3 linked regions of the Homo sapiens genome follow. The protein of the gene in region 1 interacts with the protein of each later gene in a biochemical or structural test. Each region holds a gene or a part of one and is shown in the gene's direction. Other genes may lie near its edges.

The links.
Region 2: the proteins of LSM11 (region 1) and ZNF473 form a complex in vitro, tested with the Homo sapiens proteins (one study listed by BioGRID).
Region 3: the proteins of LSM11 (region 1) and CLNS1A form a complex in vitro, tested with the Homo sapiens proteins (one study listed by BioGRID).

Annotation. Positions count from the first base shown.
Region 1 is NC_000005.10:157,739,743-157,746,756, forward strand, and holds the start of LSM11 (U7 snRNA-associated Sm-like protein LSm11), read left to right. Parts: upstream 1-3,969; 5' UTR 3,970-4,008; coding exon 4,009-4,456; intron 4,457-7,014. UniProt on the Homo sapiens protein: Component of the U7 snRNP complex that is involved in the histone 3'-end pre-mRNA processing. Increases U7 snRNA levels but not histone 3'-end pre-mRNA processing activity, when overexpressed. Required for cell cycle progression from G1 to S phases.
Region 2 is NC_000019.10:50,035,916-50,043,026, forward strand, and holds part of ZNF473 (zinc finger protein 473), read left to right. Parts: intron 1-3,245; coding exon 3,246-3,372; intron 3,373-5,106; exon of another isoform or gene 5,107-5,814; coding exon 5,815-5,904; exon of another isoform or gene 5,905-6,959; intron 6,960-7,111. UniProt on the Homo sapiens protein: Involved in histone 3'-end pre-mRNA processing by associating with U7 snRNP and interacting with SLBP/pre-mRNA complex. Increases histone 3'-end pre-mRNA processing but has no effect on U7 snRNP levels, when overexpressed.
Region 3 is NC_000011.10:77,613,932-77,620,807, reverse strand, and holds the end of CLNS1A (methylosome subunit pICln), read left to right. Parts: intron 1-1,112; coding exon 1,113-1,180; 3' UTR 1,181-1,202; intron 1,203-2,120; exon of another isoform or gene 2,121-2,268; intron 2,269-4,112; 3' UTR 4,113-6,278; downstream 6,279-6,876. UniProt on the Homo sapiens protein: Involved in both the assembly of spliceosomal snRNPs and the methylation of Sm proteins.

The DNA of each region.
Region 1 (7,014 bases):
TTATAAAGCAAGAACTATTCCATGCCTTGGAGAATGAATCATTTTTAGATTGTGACATAAATCTTGTAAAAACCTGTCAGTTATTTTCATCTATGAGAGAAGAGGAGCCCAAACTCTCGCCCACCTGTTCTTAACCAGAAAACCCACTGACTTTGAAAATCTCACCTCTGCCACCCATCTACTTGCATTCGTCTTTGGCAGACCTCAAGATAAATATGGGTTAATGCCTGCATGATGCCTCTGAATTCAGGAATTGCAGGGAAAACTCGGGGCTTTGTGCCAGTCTCTAAGTTGGCAACTTTGGCTGAACAAATGAGTAGTGGCTTCAGTGTCCTTGCGTACACATTCTGTGGATTGATTTAATGGAGTTGTCAGCATGATCATCATCTTCTAGCCAGGGGCATAGTTGCCAAGGCCATTTACCTCTTTCTAAGAAGAAACAGAATTATGTGTATATATGAGAGAAAGAAACAAGAATGCGTGAATGAGGATGAAGAAACATTTACCCCATGTACTCAAGACATTTCAGTTTTAAAAGTCACTTTCCTATTAGACTTCTTGAAAAACATTCTCACATAGCCTCTATGTAATCAGACAAATGACATTTGATTTCAAGAGCAGAGGGGTAAACATCCTCTGCTAATCGACAGGTAGCAGGTGTCAGAGGAGGCATAATATTAATAGCGCCACCTTCTGTTGGGTCAGTGGAGATGGGTGAGGAACAGCACAGAGCAGCAGGGATCATCACATGCAGCCAAACTTGGCCTCTGAAGGGGGAAGGTAGTGGGAATAGGTGGTGAGAGAACTCACATTTTTCTCTTGTCCTGGTTTTATATTTCGGAGGGAAAGGATTATTTGGCCCCATTAAGAATTAAGAGGCTGGGTGCGGTGGCTCACGTCTGTAATCCCAGCACCTTGGGAGGCCCAGGCAGGCAGATCACCTGAGGTCGGGAGTTCGAGACCAGCGTGACCAACGTGGAGAAACCCCCGTCTCTACTAAAAATACAAAAAATTAGCTGGGCATGGTGGTGCATGCCTGTGATTCCAGCTACTTGGGAGGTTGAGGCAGGAGAATCATTTGAACTCAGGAGGCGGAAGTTGCGGTGAGCCAAGATTGTGCCATTGCACTCCAGCCTGGGCAACGAGCGAAACTACATCTCAAAAAAAAAAAAAAAAGACATGGCTGGGCATGGTGGCTCACACCTGTAATCCCAGCACTTTGGGGGGCTGAGGCAGGTAGATCACTTCAGGCCAGGAGTCCAAGACCAGCACGTCCAACATGGCAAAACCCAGTCTGTACTAAAAATAGAAAAATTAGCTGGGCGTGGTGGCGTGTGCCTGCAATACCAGCTACTCAGAAGGCTGAAGCAGGATAATTGCTTGAACCTGGTAGGTGGAGGTTGCAGTGAGCTGAAATCATGCCACTGCACTCCAGCCTGGGTGACAGAGCAAAACTGCCTTAAAAAAAAAAATTAAGAGACAGCCCGTGTCCCAGTCCCTCGTCTTGCACTGCAGAATTTACATCTAAGAAGAAAATGTATTTTTGAAAGGGTGATGGCTGGCCTCATCCCTCACTAATTGACAACCCATCTGTCGATGCCATTTTTTCCCTTCCTGTTCTCACTCCACAGAAAGAGGAGATACGGTTCTTGTTTGGTAATTGCTAAAATCTCTTTGAGGAAAGAAATAAAGATGTCAACTCCTTTGGCCTGCTTTTTCATTTATTTTTCTTAGACAAATAGACTATATGAAATCTAACTTTTGTGTATATCTCTGGGTAGCCTAGGATACACATGCCCTCATCATAGCAGTGGTTCACAAACTTCTGGATGCAAAAAAAAAAATTACTTGGAATGCTTGTTTAAAATGCACATTTTTGGCTCCTCCCAGCCCCCAGAAAGGTTTGAAGCTCAACAATCTTTTTTTTTTTTTTTTTTTTTTTTGAGATGGAGTCTCGCTCTGTCAGCTCACTGCAACCTCTGCCTCTCAGGTTCAAGTGATTCTCCTGCCTTAGCCTCCTGAGTAGCTGGGACTACAGACACGCACCACCATGCCTGGCTTAATTTTTGTATTTTTAGTAGAGACGGGGGTTTTCACTACATTGGCCAGGCTGGTCTCGAACTGCTGACCTCGTGATCCGCCCGCTTCAGCCTCCCAAAGTGCTGGGATTACAGGTGTGAGCCATCACGCCCAGCCAGCAATCTGATTTTTAGCCCCAAAGGCTTCTGATATGTGTGGTTGTCAATATACAGCAGCTTCGGCAGCAAGGCCCTCGGTATACTGTGATAGGCTGGGTGGGAAGGAAGTAAGATAATGTAGCTGTTGATTGGCAATTTTAACTTAATGGTAAGTTGACAGCATTTTATATCAAAATACAAGTAGGCATTAGAGTACAAATTTTCAAGAAAACCACCCAGAGAAACGTGCTTTCTGTGGGTCTTAAATGACACTATAAAGGCTATCACTCAGTTTTGCCATATGATGTGGGGATGAGCGCTCATTTGTTGAATTGCCAGCAATTCTGCAGCTTTGAGTTTTTTATTCAGGCAGGGGGTTTTGAACAAAGTGATAAGCTGGGTTCAAAACCTGTGCCATAAAGAAACCTGTACTGCTACCAATTAGAAGCCACTGTTTGATGGTTTTTGTTTTTTTTTTTTTTTTGAGATGGAGTCTCCCTCTGTCACCCCAGCTGGAGTGCAGTGGCGCGATCTCAGCTCACTGCAACCTCCGCCCCTCCAGGTTTAAGCAATTCTCTGCCTCAGCCTCCAGCGTAGCTGGGATTACAGGCGCGTGCCACCACGCCCGGCTAATTTTTTGTATTTTTAGTAGAGACGGGGTTTCACCATCTTGGCCAGGCTGGTCTTGAACTCCTGACCTCGTGATCCACCCGCCTCGGCCTCCCAAAGTGCTGGGATTACAGGCGTGAGCCACCGCGCCCGGCCTGCTTGATGGTTTTGTCTTCGCTGTAGTATGCATTCATCCCAAGGTATATTTCAGAGTTGTATATTAATTTTCATCTTGCTCTCTAAGGTACTCTCCAGTATTCTCTTGGACTTCCTAAGTCTTAAGGAAACTGAAATGTACACAAAGCAACTAGTACAGAGAATACTAGTTGATGGCAGTTTGAGAATGTGGTGACGGGCAAGTGATGTGTGGCCTGTAGGTGAGTGGAAACATTTTGGCTCTGCTGGATGAGAAGGTTATATCTGGGCCTTCCGCGAAGAGTAGACTGTCATTTTAAAATCAACCAAAAAATATTTTGCCGAACTGAGACTATAAAGTAGCAAGTGGTATGATCAGGTCTTGGGAATTTTCCATAGTTTCCTCCAAGAGCTGGATCTTCGTTTCTTCCAATTGGTTAGCAATGCTTAGAAAGACAGTGATATAATGAATTTTCTTTGATACTAAGCACAAATTTGTTTATGCACAGGGTATAGGAAATGGAGGACAGACACCCAGTATTGGCTGACATGCATCTATTATGAGCTCTGTAGGCAGTATCTCTCCATCCTGAGGTCAGTTCTATAAGGTAGGTGCTATTTATATCATATTTCAGACGAGAAACACGCTAAATACTTTGAGCCCAGATAGGCTATTCTTCCCACCCTATCAGTAGTACTCAGCATGGAAGCAAACTGAGACATTCATTGCCTTCCTCCAGACGCTTCCTGCCAGCTCAAGCTAGGATGCGATCCCGAGCTCATTCCCGGGGAACCCAGAGTATTAACAAACACCCTAAGTGATAATGATACAGACGGGGAAACTGCGCTGGAGCAGGTCAAGCAGCAGTCGACAGCGTTAACCTGTCAGCTATGGGAGGAGGCGGTGCGAGGCGCGGGCTGGTCGGAGCCGCGTACCACGCCCCCCGGCCCGGGTGGAACGAGGACAGGTGCTGCCCTCCCGCGGCCGCTTCGGCGCAGTGCAACCCCGCGCCGCGGCTGCGCAGTGCCGCCCTCTGGCGGCTTCGTTCCTTCTTCCCATCGGCCTCGGCTTGCGGGCCTTTCAAACATGGAGGAGCGGGAGCGGGGGGCGAGGTCGGCTGGCGCCGGGAGCCCCGCGCGCCCGCCCAGCCCGCGGCTGGATGTCAGCTCTGACAGCTTCGACCCGCTGCTGGCCCTGTACGCGCCCCGCCTGCCTCCCATTCCCTACCCCAATGCCCCCTGCTTCAACAACGTGGCGGAGTACGAGAGCTTCCTCAGGACCGGAGTCCGGGGCGGCGGGCGCGGGCGCGGGCGGGCTCGGGGCGCGGCCGCGGGCTCTGGGGTTCCCGCCGCACCCGGGCCCTCGGGCAGGACTCGTCGCCGCCCGGACGCGCCCGCCCCGGACCCCGAGCGCATCCAGCGCCTCCGCCGTCTCATGGTGGCCAAAGAGGAAGGGGACGGGGCCGCAGGAGCGGGCCGGAGGGGTCCGGGTCGGAGCAGGAAGGCGCCACGCAACGTGCTCACGCGAATGCCCTGTGAGTCCGCGGGCCGGGCGGGAAGCGGGGCAGCCGCCGTCCGGAAGCTGGCTGCCGAGGGGGCGTCTGCGGGGCGGCGGTGGCCGGGCGCGGGTCTGCACGTATTGCGGGAGCGCCTTGGTGAAAATTTGCGGGGATCATCAGTGACTATGGGGTGGATCTGCTTGAGTAATGTGGGTAATGAGGGCGTGGGGAGGGTCACCCTGAGTAAGAAAAGGGGCTGTAGGAGCAACAGAGGGAGAGTGGTAAGGCTGTAGTGGTCATAAGAAGCCGTGGGAAAGGTCTTCAGCGGTAATCGGGGCCCATGGAAGGGTCACAGAGGTGATGAGCCTGCCGAGAGGGTCTACAGGATTGATGGAGGACCTGGAGAGGTGGCGGGGCTACAGAGTTTGGGGGACATCATAGGGACGTCTACAGAGGTGATGAGAGGTCTTAGAGACCACAGTGAGAGGTAAGGTGGGGCGGAAAACGGGAGACGTGGGGGAGCGCACAGCCAATATTAGGGGAAGGAGAGTATTTGGTCAGTGGGATTTGAGGATGATCGGATGGAGTGTGGGGAGATTTGTTCAGATAGCACAGGCGCATAATCCCATAACCCCTGTACATTGACAGCTCCTTCTCGAGTGCGATAAGCAGAAGGGCTGCAGAGTCTTGATACACATATGTTCACATTACTAAGTCACAAGTGCTGAAATGCAGCAGGCACAGAATGCCACTAAAACACAGACGCTGTTTTACAGCCACTCTGCCTGGCTGGGTGCAGGACTGTGTCTGTCAGGCTCATATTACCATATGTGCAGGTTATTTTAAGTTCTAAAGGTGTAAATGGCACAAGGGAATTTCTTGGAGCCTCCTCATAGATCCTTAGAGTAAAGCTGTAAACAGCAGAGGCTCTAATGTGTGAGTTAGGTCTTGTATAAATGGAATAAAAACAGCCTAAGGTTATCTCTTTTGTCATCTGGCAAGCAGTTCTGACATCTGCCCTGTGAACACAATGACCTACTTAGCCATTCAAAGCATCTGTATCCTGATAATTAAATTGTTACCTTATTAAGTCACTGTCTTTTGGATGGAGAGGTGTGCCAAGCAAGGGACTGTTTTGCTTCATTCCTAGAAATTTGTTTATTAAGAGAGAACATCCTGAAACGCTCTGTGCTGTTCCGTGTGCCTTCGTTGGATGTCTTACCATGCCACAGCATCCCTGCCCAAGCTAGGATTTACCCCGGCCTGCTTGCCTGGCTGTAACACAAAGACAGTATGCTTGTTCCCAAAATGAGAGCAGTTTGGGGGACCTTAATTTGCCTATGCAATTTGCCACCATTAGGTAGTTGAAATGCACTCCAAGTCTCATTGCAACATTTATTTCTATTTTACCAGTTATTGCTTTGCTACCAAGATTGTCAAGGGAAAGGAATATTCCTGTGTATTGCTATGTGGTGGGTGGTTTTAGCTTTCCCTATAGAGCACTTTACTGTAATGGTATGACAGTGTGTGAAGACCAGCTTTGTCAACTTCTTATGATTAAGTATATATCCCTGGAATCAAGATCTCAGAGAATATGCCCTACATACTGAAAATTTTCACCATGGCACTGCAGACAGTTGAGTGTACATGAGAGAAAGGCATTGACGTCGCACAGAGTTGATGACCTTCAGAAAGCAAGAAAACAACAGAAACATGGGTGAGGATTGGATTCATTCAAGAAAGAGTTCCTACTTGAGGGTGAAGGGTGGGAGGAGGGTGAGAATCACAAAACTACCTATTGGGTACTGTGATCACTACCTGGGTGACAAAATAATTTGTGCACCAAACCCCAGTGACACACGATTTACACCTGCAACAAACCTTTCGTGTACCTCCTGATCCAAAAACAAAAGTTGGAAGGGGGGAAAAAAAAGAACTAGGTATGTTTTATATGTATGCCACAGTTTTAATTTAAAAAAATATATGCCTACTCTAAACTCTGATTGGATACAGTTGCTCAGGAAAATCAAAATATAGATACCAGTAAGATAATACTATTTGTGGACATATACAAATGCTTTCTGGAAAAAAATGCCTATGCATTTGAGAATGCATAATCCTTTGCAAAATATTCACATAAAATGTAAGTTCCATCAGGCTGTAACAGCAAGAAGAAGCTTTGTTAGGTCATATCATCAGTGAAACATAATGAAGAATACATGAGGAGCTACATTTTGTCGCTGACTTTAAAATGATGTATTTCATCAATTCAGATCCAAGTTACCCATCCAAATTCACAGAGAGGACAGTGTGGAATGTTTATGAAAAAACAAGGAGTGCAAAATTAAGTGTAATGGTGTTTTAACTGTAAAATATTTCACTTTGTATCTCTGTCATAGAATCTCTTTGAATTCCCTTGTGGAGCAGTTGTATTCTTTTCCTTGCAGTAATAAAATTTTAAAAGTAGCCAGGCACAGTGGCTCACACCTGTAATCCCAGCACTTTGGGAGGCCGAGGCGGGCAGAACACTTGAGGCCAGGAGTTCAAGACCAGCCTGGCCAACGTGGTGAAACCCTGTCTCTACTAAAAATACA
Region 2 (7,111 bases), on another chromosome or scaffold:
CCACCACCTACTCACCGTGTGCTGTGGTTGGAATGTTTGTCCCCTTTGAAACTCTTTTTTTTTTGAGAGGGAGACTCTGTTTTCTAGGCTGGAGTGCAGTGGTGTGATCTTGGCTTGTGGAACCTCCATCTCCTGGGCTCAAGTGATCCTCCTACCTCAGCCTCCCGAGTAGCTGGGACTACAGGTGTGCACTACCACGCCCAGCTAATCTTTTTGTGTTTTTGGTAGAGATGGGGGTTTTACCATGTTGCCCAGGCTCATCTCAAACTCCTGAGCTCAAGCAGTCTGCCCGCCTCAGCCTCTCAAAGTGCTGGAATTACAGGCATGAGCCACCATGCCCCACCAATCGAAACTCCTTGAAATTTAATCCCTAATGTAGCTGTATTAAGAGGTGGGGCCTTTTTTTTTTTTTTTTTGAGATGGAGTCTCACTCTGTCACCCAGGCTGGAGTGCAGTGGCGCAATCCTGGCTCACTGCAAGCTCTGCTTCCCAGGTTCATGCCATTCTCCTGCCTCAGCCTCCCGAGTAGCTGGGACTACAGGTGCCCGCCACCATGCCCAGCTAATTTTTTTTTTTTTTTTTGCATTTTTAGTAGAGGCGGGGTTTCACTGTGTTAGCCAGGATGGTGTCGATCTCCTGACCTCATGATCCGCCTGCCTTGGCCTCCCAAAGTGCTGGGATTACAGGTTTGAGCCACTGCGCCCGGCCAAGGTGGGGCCTTTAAGAGATGATTAGGTCATGAAGGCTCTGCCTGTGTGAGTGAATTCATTTATTCATGGAATAATGGGTTATCATGAGAGTGGGTCTGTTGTAAAAGCCAGCTTGACATTGCTTCAGTTCCCTCACCATGTTATGCGTTGTGCCATTTTAGGGCTCTGTAGAGTCTCCACCAGCAGGACGACCCTCACCAGAGGCAGTCTGTTGGCCTTGGACTTCCCAGCCTCGAGAACTATAGGAAACAAATTTCTTTTCTTTATAAATTACCCAGTTATAGCAACAGAAGATGGACTAATACACTGTGTAACTTGGAGAAAGTGACTATTTGGGCCTTGATTTTGTTTTCTATAAGTTGGGGATAATCCTGCCTCAAAGAGGAGTCAGGCAGTTCAGTGACTCACTGCACCTAAAGCATTGAACCATTGCCGGCATGCAGAAAGCTGTTGGCCAAAGAAGGGCTTTTGCAGTCAGATGCCTGGAGGGTTGGGATGGGCAGTGTAAGCCAGAGTGGAATTGCCCCTTTGTCGAGCTCTTCCTGTGTGCTAAGTACTATGCAGTCACCTCCCAGCAGTATTTCAGTTGCTTCTTGTAGCAGCCCTGATGAGATGGGACTCGTTGGTCCCATTTCACTAGGGGAGCAGGAATTGGGGTCACAAGAGACATGCAGCTTACTTGCCAATAGTCACTCATAAAGGGAAGGTAATAGGGCCATACCTCAGACCCAAACTAAAGAGAGGTGGTTTTCATTCTTTCTTAAAATGTGCCTGTGCCCACACTGATGGAGATTTGGAAGAGACACATCAGTCATGGTTTCACCTAGAGATGGGGTGTGTGGGGGCAGGCTTTCACGTTTTAATGTTGGTACTTCTCAAGTATTTGAATTTTTATCCTAAACATCCATTAACTGTCCAGGTACAGTGGCTCATGCCTGTAATCCCAACACTTCAGGAGGCAGGGGCAGGAGAATCACTTGAGGCCAAGAGTTCGAGACCAGCCTGGGCAACATGGCAAGACTCCTACTCTACCAAAAAAAAAAAAAATTAGCTGGGTCTGGTGGCACAAGCCTGTAGTCCTAGCTACTTGGAAGCTGAGGCAGGAGGATTGCTTGAGCCCAGGAGGTGGAGGCTATGATCGTGGCACTGCACTCCAGCCTGGGCAACAGAGTGAGACACTCTCTCTCTCTCTCGCTCGCTCTCTCTCTCTGTATATATAATATATATAATTTATGGATTACCAGATTTATAAATTACCATAACTTACAAACGACAGAAGGAAACCAATTCCTTATAGTGAAAACTGGCAAATAAAAGGAGAGTCAAGCATTTACCCTACCTGTCCTATACGAACTCTACCGCTGACTAGCCAAATAGTAGAAAATTTTTTTTTTTTTTTTTGAGACAGGGTCTCACTGTCCCCCAGGGTGGAGTGCAGTGGTGCGATCACAGCTCACTGTAGCCTCGACCTCCTTGGGCTCCTGTGATACTCTCACCTCAGCCTCCTGAGTAGCTGGGACTACAGGTGCATATATAAATTATAAATTATAATTTTATAAATTTATAAATTTATAAATTATATATATAATTATATATAAAATAAAATTTAATATATACATGCACACACACATAAATAATAATAAACACTTATTAACTAGGAAAGTCTTAAAATGAAAGATGGCATCACTAAAAGTTGGACAACCAGATAGGAGCCTTGGGTAACCATGTGTTACCCAAGCGGACCTGGTACCTAAAGCGGACCTGGTACCACCTGTGAGTGGGTCTTTCCCCCAGAAGCTGTATTGACTCCAGTCAGGCCTCTGCTCTCCTGACCAGCTCACAGGAAATGCGTGGCCAGGGAGCAGCCAGGTGACACTGCATGGAAGCAGCTTGCCACACTCAGAACATGGGACCTCAAATCAGGAGCATGGAGGATGTAGAAGGCACAGCGGTACAGCTGTAGATTTCAAAACCTCAGAACCACATCAGTTACAGGGTATGGGCCCCCTGGATTCTGATTGAGACGAGCTAGCTATAAAGACACACCACTGAGATGTCAGACTAATCTGTATACAGATTTTGAATGTGGTCTAGGTGTTCAGTGATTAAGGAGTTACTGTTCATACTGAAGTATTCACAGGTGAAATCAGATGACCCCTGGGTGATGAGTTCATGGGTGTTAATTATATACATCTCTACTTGTATGTATGTTTGAAAGTTTACAAAATAAGTCTTGAATGAACACTTAAAGCAAAAGCGTAAAATAGATTTTTAGGATCAGGCAGACCTGGGTTCAGTCCCACCTGTGTTAACTTCGGTTGACATCCTGTCCCCTGGTCAAAGTCAAGGTCCTTTTCTTTGCCTACAAAATACAGGGGTTTCCAGTCTCTTACATCTCAAGATTCTTGTGAGGCTGAGGATGGGATGGTTTTTGCCAAAGCCCTGGCAGATTGAGGGCTGGGAGTGCCCTGAGTGAGCTGTTGGGCTCCTCCCTGACCCCAGCCTCTGAGTGACCAATAGTGTACTGTGTTTCAGGAATTTGTGACCCTCAAGGATGTCGGCATGGACTTCACCTTGGGAGACTGGGAGCAGCTCGGGCTGGAACAGGGGGACACGTTCTGGGACACAGCGTTGGACAATTGCCAGGACCTCTTCCTGCTGGGTGAGTGTTGCCTGTCCCCAGGGGCCTACTCACTGCCCTGCTTGGTGATCACCCATGCTCTCTACCACCCACAGGGTGAAGTCCTGGCTCCTGGGCTCCTCAGAATCAGCATGACCTAGCCCAGCAGTTCTCAGCTGGCCGAGGAGACATTGGCAATGTGTGGAGACATTTTTGATTGTTACTCCTTGGGCCAGCGCAGCGTGCCGCTAGCATCTAGCTGGTGGAACCAAGGGAGGCTGCCACACATCCTACAGTGCACAGCACAGCCCCACAACCAAGGATTGGCCCACGCCAGTGTCAGTAGTGCTAAGCCTGGGAAACCCTGCTCTGGCCCCTATCTGCCTCCCCAGCCTTGTCTTCACCACTTTCCTACTTGTAGTCAGTCATTCTTCAAGCTGATACTTCAAAGTCTTCCAGTTGCCCTCCCCTCTGCCTAAGCGGCTCTCAGGGCTTACATTTTTAAAGTTTAACCTGGGACCCTGTTAGAACTCCATACCTCCTCTCCTACTCATCTTGTCTGTCGCTCCCTCACGTTCTAACTACCATTGTATCATTCAGAGCGGGAGCTGTGTGAGGACAGGGCGTGTCCCCAGTGTTTGGAACGAACAGTACCTGCTCTAGGGCCCAGCAGACAGCTCTAAACTAATGAATGATTGAGTAGCAGCTCTTAGGACTTGCTTGTTCAATCCTCCAGTCACCCCATGAAGAAGCTGGGTTGTCCCTCTTTTGCCGATTGGTCTGAAACTGAGGTTAAAAGAGTGGCAGTCACCTTCCCAGCTGTGTCAGTGTCCCCAGGAGCACCCACAGATTCAGTGATTGGCTAGGATTCCCAGGACTCATCCTGTAGTCAGACTCATGGCTATGACTTACTACAGTGAAAAGATTCAGAGCACAGTCAGCAAAGGGAGGAGGTACATGGGGCAAAGTCCAAGGAAGCCAGGCACAAGCTTCCAGAATTCTCTCAGGGGAGTCACATGGGACATGCTTAATTCCCCCAGCAATACTGTAGAATGTGATATCGCGTGTGAAATGCTGTCCACCAGGGAAGCTCATCAGAGACTCAGTGCCAGGGTTTTTACTGGGGGCTGGTCATGTGGGCTCCTCTGCCTGGCACATTCCAAAATTCCAGCCCCCCAGAAGGAAAGCAGGTGTAAGCCACCGTGTTTGCACAGTTTAGGTCCAGGGAGCGTGTCTCTTCAGTTCTGGAGACACGGGGTACCCCCCTGAAATCCAGCCTTGCCAGCAGGCTTTTCCCAGGAGAGCAGCCAGCCTGCTGTGTCGCCCTCTTCTGCACACCAGTGTCACACAGTGAGACAGCAGCAGGGCCCAGACTCCAGCTAAGGTCTGTGCAGCTCCAAGGCCATATCACCCCAGCTCCCCATCAGTGTCACCTGATTAACTCATTTTCCCTCTCTGTTGCCTCAGTTCTTTCTTTTTGAAGAACCAGAAAAATAATTTACTCCAAAAGATGAAAGAAGTAAAAGATAACACACGGTGGAAACTATCATTTGATAGAATCTCATCACATTGGGGCAGACTTTCTCCAGACTGGCCAGTGTGTGCTAAGAAGCATCTCGTGGGAGGTCCTACCTCAGTGTCTTTTTGAATTTTTAAACTACAGCCCACAGTAAGAAGTGTGTTTACCTCGACTGCCCCTTCACCCATTTGTGTGAATGTATGAGTAGTGTATCCGTTTCCTATTGCTGCTGTTACACATACCACAAACACAGTGGCTTCCACCAGCACACTTTTATTATGTTACAGTCCTGGAGGCCAGGAGTTCCAAATGCATGTGGCTGGGCTGGAGGCGAGGTGTTGGCAGGGCCACCATGTTCCTTCTGGAGGCTCCAGCACGTAGATAGTCCTTCCTGGCCCGTTGCCAGCTTCTGGAGGTCACCTGTATTGCTTGACTCATGGCTTCTCAGTCTTCAAAGACAGCAGTGGCGTTTTCTCCGCTGTGGCCTGTATCCCTCCTGGATGGTGACTCTGTTCCCTTCCTTGGGGAAGCTTGTGGAGGGTATGGCTCAGGACTGCTTGGGCTCTGGGACCCTGACATTTTCTGTCCCTGGCCCATGGAGGCCTCAGGCAATGTGTGGCCCATGGGTCAGTGAATAAATCATGAATGGCTAAGGAAGTACGTGCCTCTCCACCTGGCAGATCCTGCCCATTAAAGAGCTGTCACAAGTCCTTTGTATCCCCAGCCCCAGCTGTCACAGCTTTGATCACCCTGGATTGTGATTGTTTGGCTCCCTCTCCATCACTGGACTGGGAACCCTACAGGACAGGCATCCCCAGAGTCGCCCAGTGCAGCACCTCGTCCACACACAGGAGCCACGTGCAGGATAAAGCATAGAAAAGTCAGGAGAGCCAGGAGGTTCTCACTGAGTGTCTGGATGGTCCTCCATGTCCTGGTTGGGTGACAATGCTTTTCTCTCCCTGCAGACCCCCCAAGACCCAACCTGACCTCCCACCCAGATGGCAGTGAAGATCTGGAGCCTCTGGCAGGAGGAAGCCCAGAAGCAACAAGCCCTGGTGAGTGGATGGAGAGGGGCCCCTTGTGTACCTTCTGTCTTCCAGACCTCCATCCTGAGGCTGCAGCCAGCTTTCCCACAGGTCTACCGAGACATTACAACGCTCAGCTTCAGGACTTCACTCTGCTTCTCGCTGGCTTCCATCCCCTTGTCCTGGGAGCTGGGGGGATCAGGACATTTTTATAGACCCTCACTCTGGGGTCTCTCTACCTTGCCCTTCAGCACAGGGTTATCCTGGTGCCTCTCCACAGCTCCTCCTCTTTCCTTCCAGACTCAACAAGGGTACGCCCTCCACTCTCTCAGTTGGTCTCTCTACTTTCCTGCCTTGTGCTCCCTGAGTGTGTTGACCCTCATTCTACTTCTTTTACCTCCTTTCCTTCAGGCCCATTTTTCCTTCCTATCCCTGGGGCATAGCAGATGGCCACATCAGGGAGTAACTTAAGCCCAGGCCTGAATGCTGCCAAGAGCATCTGCCCTGCCATCTCCCAAGCCGGGGTTCCTCCAGGTGGATCAGGTTAGGTGGTGAGGATTCCTGGGGTATTACCCATGGTAGAGACGTCCCCAGCATGAGAAGCAGGGCCCTGAACCAGAGACCACAGGAATCTCAGGCTGTACCCCATCCAGTCAGTCTGCAGCTCCCTTCTTGGCTCACCACGCTCAGGCTCGTGTACATGAGGCCTCTGCAGCCTCCTCTTCAGCACATCAGTGTTCCTCATAGGTGACTAACTCATGCACAGGCTCTCACAACTTCTGCTTTCTGTTTCTGTCACCTCAGCATATTGGCTGTTTCCAAACATAGGTAGCCATGCCTTTACTAACAAATATACCTCCATATCCTCTAGTAGTGACACTTGAGTTGCATAGTTACCACATAAGCGTCTTTCCCCTTTAACAGCATGCCGCTCTTGGAAGCAGGGCTTAGCTGATTCACCCTGTATTCCCAGCTCCTGACATCATGCTTGGCATATAAGGGGTGCCTATTACATGTCTGTTGGTGCATTTGAGGCCGAGGGAACAACATGAGCACAAGTGTGGTGAGGAGAGTGAGCTGGATATCTGTGGGAGAGATGAGCAGAGGCAAAGGTGACAATTCAGAACAAGATGTGGTTTCAGAAGGCTTTCATTTGCAAGTTTTAATTCCAGGCAGAGAGACTTTAAGCAGTCTCATAGATACTCAGATGGTGAGCCAAGAACTGCACAAGGGACAG
Region 3 (6,876 bases), on another chromosome or scaffold:
GTTTCACCATGTTGGCCAGGCTGGTCTCTAACTCCTGACCTCAGGTGATCTGCCTGCCTTGGCCTCCACCTTCCTGGTTCAAGCCATTCTCCTGCCTCAGCCTCCCGAGTAGCTGGGATTATAAGCGCCTGCCACCATGCCCGGGTAATTTTTTTGTATTTTTGTTAGAGATTTCGCCATGGGGTTTTGCCATGTTGGCCAGGCTGGTCTCAAACTCCTGACCTCAGGTGATCCACCCACCTTGGCCTCCCAAAGTGCTGGGATTACAGGCGTGAGCCACTGTGCCTGGCCAAGACAACTCTTTCCGTGGGGCTTGTATTAGTCTGTTTTCACACTGCTGATAAAGACATACTCAAGACTGGGCAATTAGCAAAAGAAAGAGGTTTCATTGGACTTACAGTTCCATATGGCTGGGGAAACCTCACAATCGTGGTGGAAGACGAGGAGCAAATCACATCTTACATGGAAGGCAGCAAGCAAAAAGAGCTTTTGCAGGAAAACTCCCCCTTATATAACCATCAGATCTAGTGAAACTTACTCATTATTATGAGAACAGCACGGGAAAGACCTGCCCCCATAATTCAGTTACCTCCCACCAGATCCCTCCCACAACACGTGGGAATTCAAGATGAAATTTGGGTAGGGACACAGCCAAACCATATCAGGGCTCTTGTTTTTTTTCTCTTGTTCCCTCCCCACCTTTTATTTAATGAGATGACAAAAACAGGGAAATAAGCAAAAAGCTTGCTGTACTGATTTTTGTCTTTTCACTTTGTGAGGATAGGGCTGTATACCTTAAAAAGCCTAACAGTAAATACTTAGATCTGTAAAGGGTGAACAATTGATACTGCATTTGAAAGTTCCTACATAGAGTTATTTTAGTATTGAGGGTGAGAATTTACACAGTTAGTGTCGCAGACTGATTTTGATGTGGCCTAAATCCCCAGGTAGCATTTTCTTTCTCAGTTTGTCCCTTCAGACTTTTCCAAAAAGAGGAAAAAGCAATTCTTACCAGCAGAGGGCACTAGCTTCCTTCTGGTAGAAGTTATAAGTTGAATCTACCTGTCTGAAGTGTTCATAGGGATTGCTCAGTAATTAATTTTTTTGTTTAGATGGGATGGAGGTGGATACCACACCAACAGTTGCTGGACAGTTTGAGGATGCAGATGTTGATCACTGAAAATGATTTATGCAAGTTTAAGGTGAGTAGTTCATTTTCTCCCTTGTCGCTGATCATGAAAATCATATGAAATGATTACTTTCTACTTTTTAAAATTCTTTCTTGAGACAGGGTCTTACTCTGTCACCCAGGCTAGAGTGCAGTGGCATGATCCTAGCTCACTACAGCCTTGAACTCAAGCAATCCACCTGCCTCACCCTCCCAAATAGCTGGGACTATAGGCACATGCTTACCACACCCAGCTTATTTTAAAATTTTACGTAGAGACAAGGTCTCACATGTTGCCCAGGCTGGTCTCTAACTCCTGGCCTCAAATGATTCTCCCTCCTCGGCATCCGAAAGTACTGGGATTACAGCTGTGAGCCACTGTATCTGGCCTATTTCTTTTTCCTTCTTTAAAAAAATTTTTCTTCTTTTAAACCTCAGATTGTTCCTGACAATTTATTTGCTACTCCATTATTCTGAGAAATATATTGTCCTTTGCCAGCCTAAGTATTTCAACTATATGTTAGATAATAACTGAAGGTCATGTTCATATCATACAGAGCTAGAACCAGTAATTGTAGTAGTCCTTTATAAGCTGTTGTTAAATTGTTGTCCCTGTCTCCCCACTACAACTTCCTCCTACCTTATAGCATTGTTTTCTTGAATACTGGCTATCCTCCAGTCTTTGAGATGCTCTCGCTAGCCTCCTTTTATTTTACTAAAGCATATAGTAATAGCATGGTAAGATTTATATGTTTTGACTTGACTCTGCTACCACTGTCAGTCATCCAGTTAAGTTATAAGATCCTTTGTTATTCCCTGCAATGATAAATATTTCAGAATTCCTTCTCTTTTCTTCTGATACAGATTTTAGTTCTGAACCTAGTTCTGTAATCATTGGCTTTTCTCCAGTTACAAGTTTTAATTCCTTTACCCCTGTTCTATTTCATTTCAGAAACCAGCCTTTTAAAGTTCCAGTTAGCTTCCAAGTTACTGCTATTGTGAAAACTGTATAACATTGCTTCTTATACTGACCATGAATTGTGATACTGGACCTGTGCTTTCTTCTCACATCCTGCCAGTGGAACTATCAGAAAATAACCTCTTAGAGTTCTATGATTTATATTTTCCCTTAAATACTTAATTTTAATTTCCACATTTACTTTTGTCAGTGGTAGCCATACAGTTTAAAATTAGCAATGTCTTCTCTGTTAAAATCATGTGTTCACATCACTGGAGCTCTGTTAACTTTGATTTTTAGCTCTCACAGTTCCAATTGTCAGTAACTTCACTGTTCTACTTCATGGGAAATCCTTTGATATCAACTTCAGTATTCTTTCCTTATTTCTCATCACATTATAGCATATTAATTTTTTCAGTTCAGTGATACTTGTTTTAGTAACTGTTTTATTGCAATTAGAAAACAGATTTTTGGGTCTTTGGGCTTTCACATATTTCTTTTGAAGAATAGACTATACAGAGAACATCAGCCACTCTATTATTAATCAGAATCATGAGAAACTCATTTGGTATGTCACTAACAGTTAAACAAATGGGATGTTACTGCAGTCCTTGGCAAGAATTCTTAGGATTCTTTTTAATGGTGAAATAGCCACAAACTTTTTAATGAGCTTTGTTTTCTGTTAATTTTATCCTAGAGCTCAGAGGCAGAGAATTATTTTATTCATAACGGTTTTTTTTCTTTTCTTTTTTTTTTTTCTTTTTGAGATGGAATCTCGCTCTGTCGCCCAAGCTGGAGTGCAGTGGTGTGATCTTGGCTCACTGCAACCTCTGTCTCCTGGGTTCAAGCGATTCTCCTGCTTCAGTCTCCCAAGTAGCTGGAACTACAGACGCGCGCCACCACGCCTGGCTAATTTTTGTATTTTTAGTAGAGAGAGGGTTTCACCATGTTGGCCAGGATGGTCTTGATCTTTTGACCTCGTGATCCGCCTGCCTCGGCCTCTCAAAGTGCTGGGATTACAGGCATGAGCCACTGCACCCTGTTTATAATGTATAAACATTATGTATAATGTTTATACATATTCTTCATCTGGATAATTGATCTGAATTCCGAACAATGTCTGTACATTTTTTTTTTTTTGACACGGGAGTCTCGCTCTGTTGCCTAGGCTGGTGTGCAGTGGCGCAACTTGGTTCATTGCAACCTCTGCCTCCCGGGTTCAAGCAATTCTCCTGCCTCAGCCTCCTGAATAGCTGGGATTACAGGTGCCCACCACCACACCCGGCTAATTTTTTTTTTTTTTTTTTTTTTTTTGAGATGGAGTTTCGCTCTTGTTGCCCAGGCTGGAGTGCAATGGTGCAATCGGCTCACCGAATCCTCCGCCCCCCCGGGTTCAAGTGATTCTCCTGCCTCATCCTCCCGAGTAGCTGGGATTACAGGCATGTGCCACCACGCCTGGCTAATTTTGTAATTTTAGTAGAGACAGTGTTTCTCCATGTTTGGTAAGGCTGGTCTTGAACTTCTGACCTCAGGTTATCCGCCTGCCTTGGCCTCCCAAAGTGCTGGGATTACAGGTGTGAGCCACCACACCTGGCTGTGTAAATTTTTAATCATTTAAAATTGTACATGCTTTAAAAGAATGAATAAGGAATAAATAATTAAGAGTAGTTTATGCAACTGTTAATAATTTCAGGATAATGGAACTAGGACTTCTCAGTGCATGAGGTGGGGTGGAGACGGCACGTTAATCGTGGAATCACAACTCTGCCACATACTTGTGTACACCTTTGGACAAGGCATATAACTTATTTAATCCTCACTTCCCCCATCTGTAAAATGGGGAGGATAATACCTACCTTGCAGGGTTGTTGCAGAGGCTAAGATAAAATGTACCTAAGTCCTCTGGCACTCGTGACTAGGCATTCAATAAGTAGTAGCTATTATTATTATCACTACTGTAAACACTGTAAACCTTTTGTTTTTCAGATTCTGCTCCTAAGTGTAGGAGAGAACTTGGTGCCTCTTCCACTCTGGAGTGAAGTTAATGAAAGTCTTTTTCCTTTTCCAAAACCCAACCTGAACCAGTTCTTTCTTGAGACAGACTATACTGAGACAACAAGTTGTCACCAGCAGAAGATAGATAATATGACCTTTATTAACTTGATGAATTAACTTAACCAAGAGGGTATTTGTAGTTTACTATTTACCCTAAAACTTTCTGTGTCTGGGTACCCTCTGAGTAGGCCTATAATTCCTACCTTGACTGTGTGCATCATTTGTAAGCTAGCAGATCTATGTGGTGAAAATGCACAGGAGCTTGGTAGACTGCGGGGGAAAGAGAGAGCTCCTTTCGCCATGTTTTACCAGTCTGCTGTTATAACCTCTTAGGTTGTATCCTTTAATTTCCAGCCTTTTAGGTTAGTTTCTGTAACAGAACAAGTGAGTCTGGGATGAAGTCCTCAAAGTACTTCAAATGGTAATTGTTTTGTTTTTGTAATAGCTTAACAAATAAACCTAGGTTTTCTATATTACTTTGCTCTCATTCTTGACTAAAACCATTAATGAGAAATGTTTTTTAAAAAATAATGCTGGCAAATATGAGAATTTTGTTGGCTTTATTTTTGTTTACTTGTTGAGAAGATGAACATGAAATTAATAAGAAAATATAGTTATAGCTTCTGGCAAGTATTTAGTAAGGCAAAGATTTAACACATTTCAGGGGATTTCTGCCACTTCCTTTTAGATCAGCAGTAATTTCTTATATTTATCAACTCTCAATTTTTAGTTTTCATAGATACCTGGGTATTATAAGGCTGATTTGTAATTACTGATTTATACTTGGACTTTTGAAATCATTATGTGTCCTTAAAAATAAGGTTATACAAGCTAACCTTCTTAACAGGATCACATGGCTAATTAGTGACTAAACTGATGTTTGGTACCACTCAGCCCAGTGTTCATTTCAGCACTGTCACTTGGTTTCCCTTATCTTGCAAGGTAGACTGAAAAAAAACGAATTTTCCTTTTTCTAACCAGACTCTCAGAATTTCTGAGTCTGTTAACAATAGGCAAGTAAAACAGCCACTTGAAATGGAAACTAAAATTTACTGAGACCTCTGTACTAGCCACTGTCCTGAGTTCTTTATTATGTATTATAATATTCTTAATTATCTTATGAGATACGCTTTTATCCCACTTTATAGTTGAGGAAACTGAGTTATAGAGAGAGGTAAAATAACTTGCTTAAGGTCATGTAGATAGTGAATTGTGATTTTTGAGCCTGTGCTTTAAAACATCATACAGCCTTACCACCTACCAGCAGCAGAAAGCATGCACACTCTCCCCACTGCTGCAGGGTTTCAGTGTTAACATTTCAATGGCCAGTACAAGAGCTTCCCCAGTTTCTCTGCTACCCATCTGAGCAACACCCATAATTCTATCCTAGAAGTTTGTCCATTCTTCAGTAATCAGTCAGGACATTCTCACAGGCTAATATTAGAAATTCCATTTGAGTTCCTTTTAAAAGGAACAAATTTATAATTGTGACTTTCCATGAACATAAATTGCTCTGATAGCAAAATGTCGAGAAGATTCAGAGTGTACTTGGTTTCTTGTTGGTGTTGCTGTGGTCAATGCAATATGCAAAAAGGCAGGAGACCAAAGCATGTGGGCACCTCTCTGGGCTTATTTCCTCATTAGACTAAGTGACTTTCAAAGATTGAGCTGTAACATTCACTAGATAGTTAGAACCGTAGCATTGAGAAAATAGAAGCTGAGAAAAAAGAGCAGGTCAGGCTTTTAAAAGATAAAATTTATAATGATCAGCCAGACAATATTTATTGATTTCATTTGAGCCTAATTTTAGGGTTGCTGGAATTGTTTTCTTTGTGTGTTCCTGATGTAGAGACACTTTAAAGGTACATAGACATTTCCCCTCCAAAATGTAAGTCATCTAAATGTTCCTAAAAGCTAGGGTTAATGGTTCTCTGTTCTAGGTTCTTCATTTAAAAAATGTATTCATTAAGATATGGTCCCAGCCGGACGTGGTGGCTCACACCTGTAATCCCAGCACTTTGGGAGGCTCAGGTGGGCAGATCACTTGAGGTCAGGAGTTTGAGACCAGCCTGGCCAATACGGTGAAAACCCATCTCTACTGAAAATACAAAAATTAGCCAGCCATGGTGGTGGGCACCTGTAATCCCAGCTACTCAGGAGGCTGAGGCACAAGAATCACTTGAACCCAGGAGGCAGAGGTTGCAGTGAGCTGAGGCCATAAGCTTGTTTAAATCTTTATAGGGGCTGGGCACGGTGGCTCATGCCTATAATCTCAGCACTTTGGGAGGCTGAGGTGGGTCGATCACCTGAGGTCAGGAGTTCCAGACTAGCCTGGCCAACATGGTCAAACCCTGTCTCTACAAAAATACAAAAAATTAGCTGGGCGTGGTGGTGGGGCACCTCTAATCCCAGCTACTTGGGAGGCTGAGGCAGGAGACTCCCTTGAACCTAGGAGGCAGATGTTGCAGTGAGCTGAGGTCACACCGTTGCATTCCAGCCTGGGCAACAAGAGCAAAACTCCATCTCAAAAATCAAAAAAGGTTATGTGGTTATGTATTTTTGAGGTTCTGTTAGGAGCTTCCTCAATATTGGTAAAGGTGAGAGATTATGTGCAGATGATCATAATATACAGGTTGAGTATTCCTAATCTGAAATCTGAAATTCCCCAAAATCTGAAACTTTTTTGAGTGCTAAC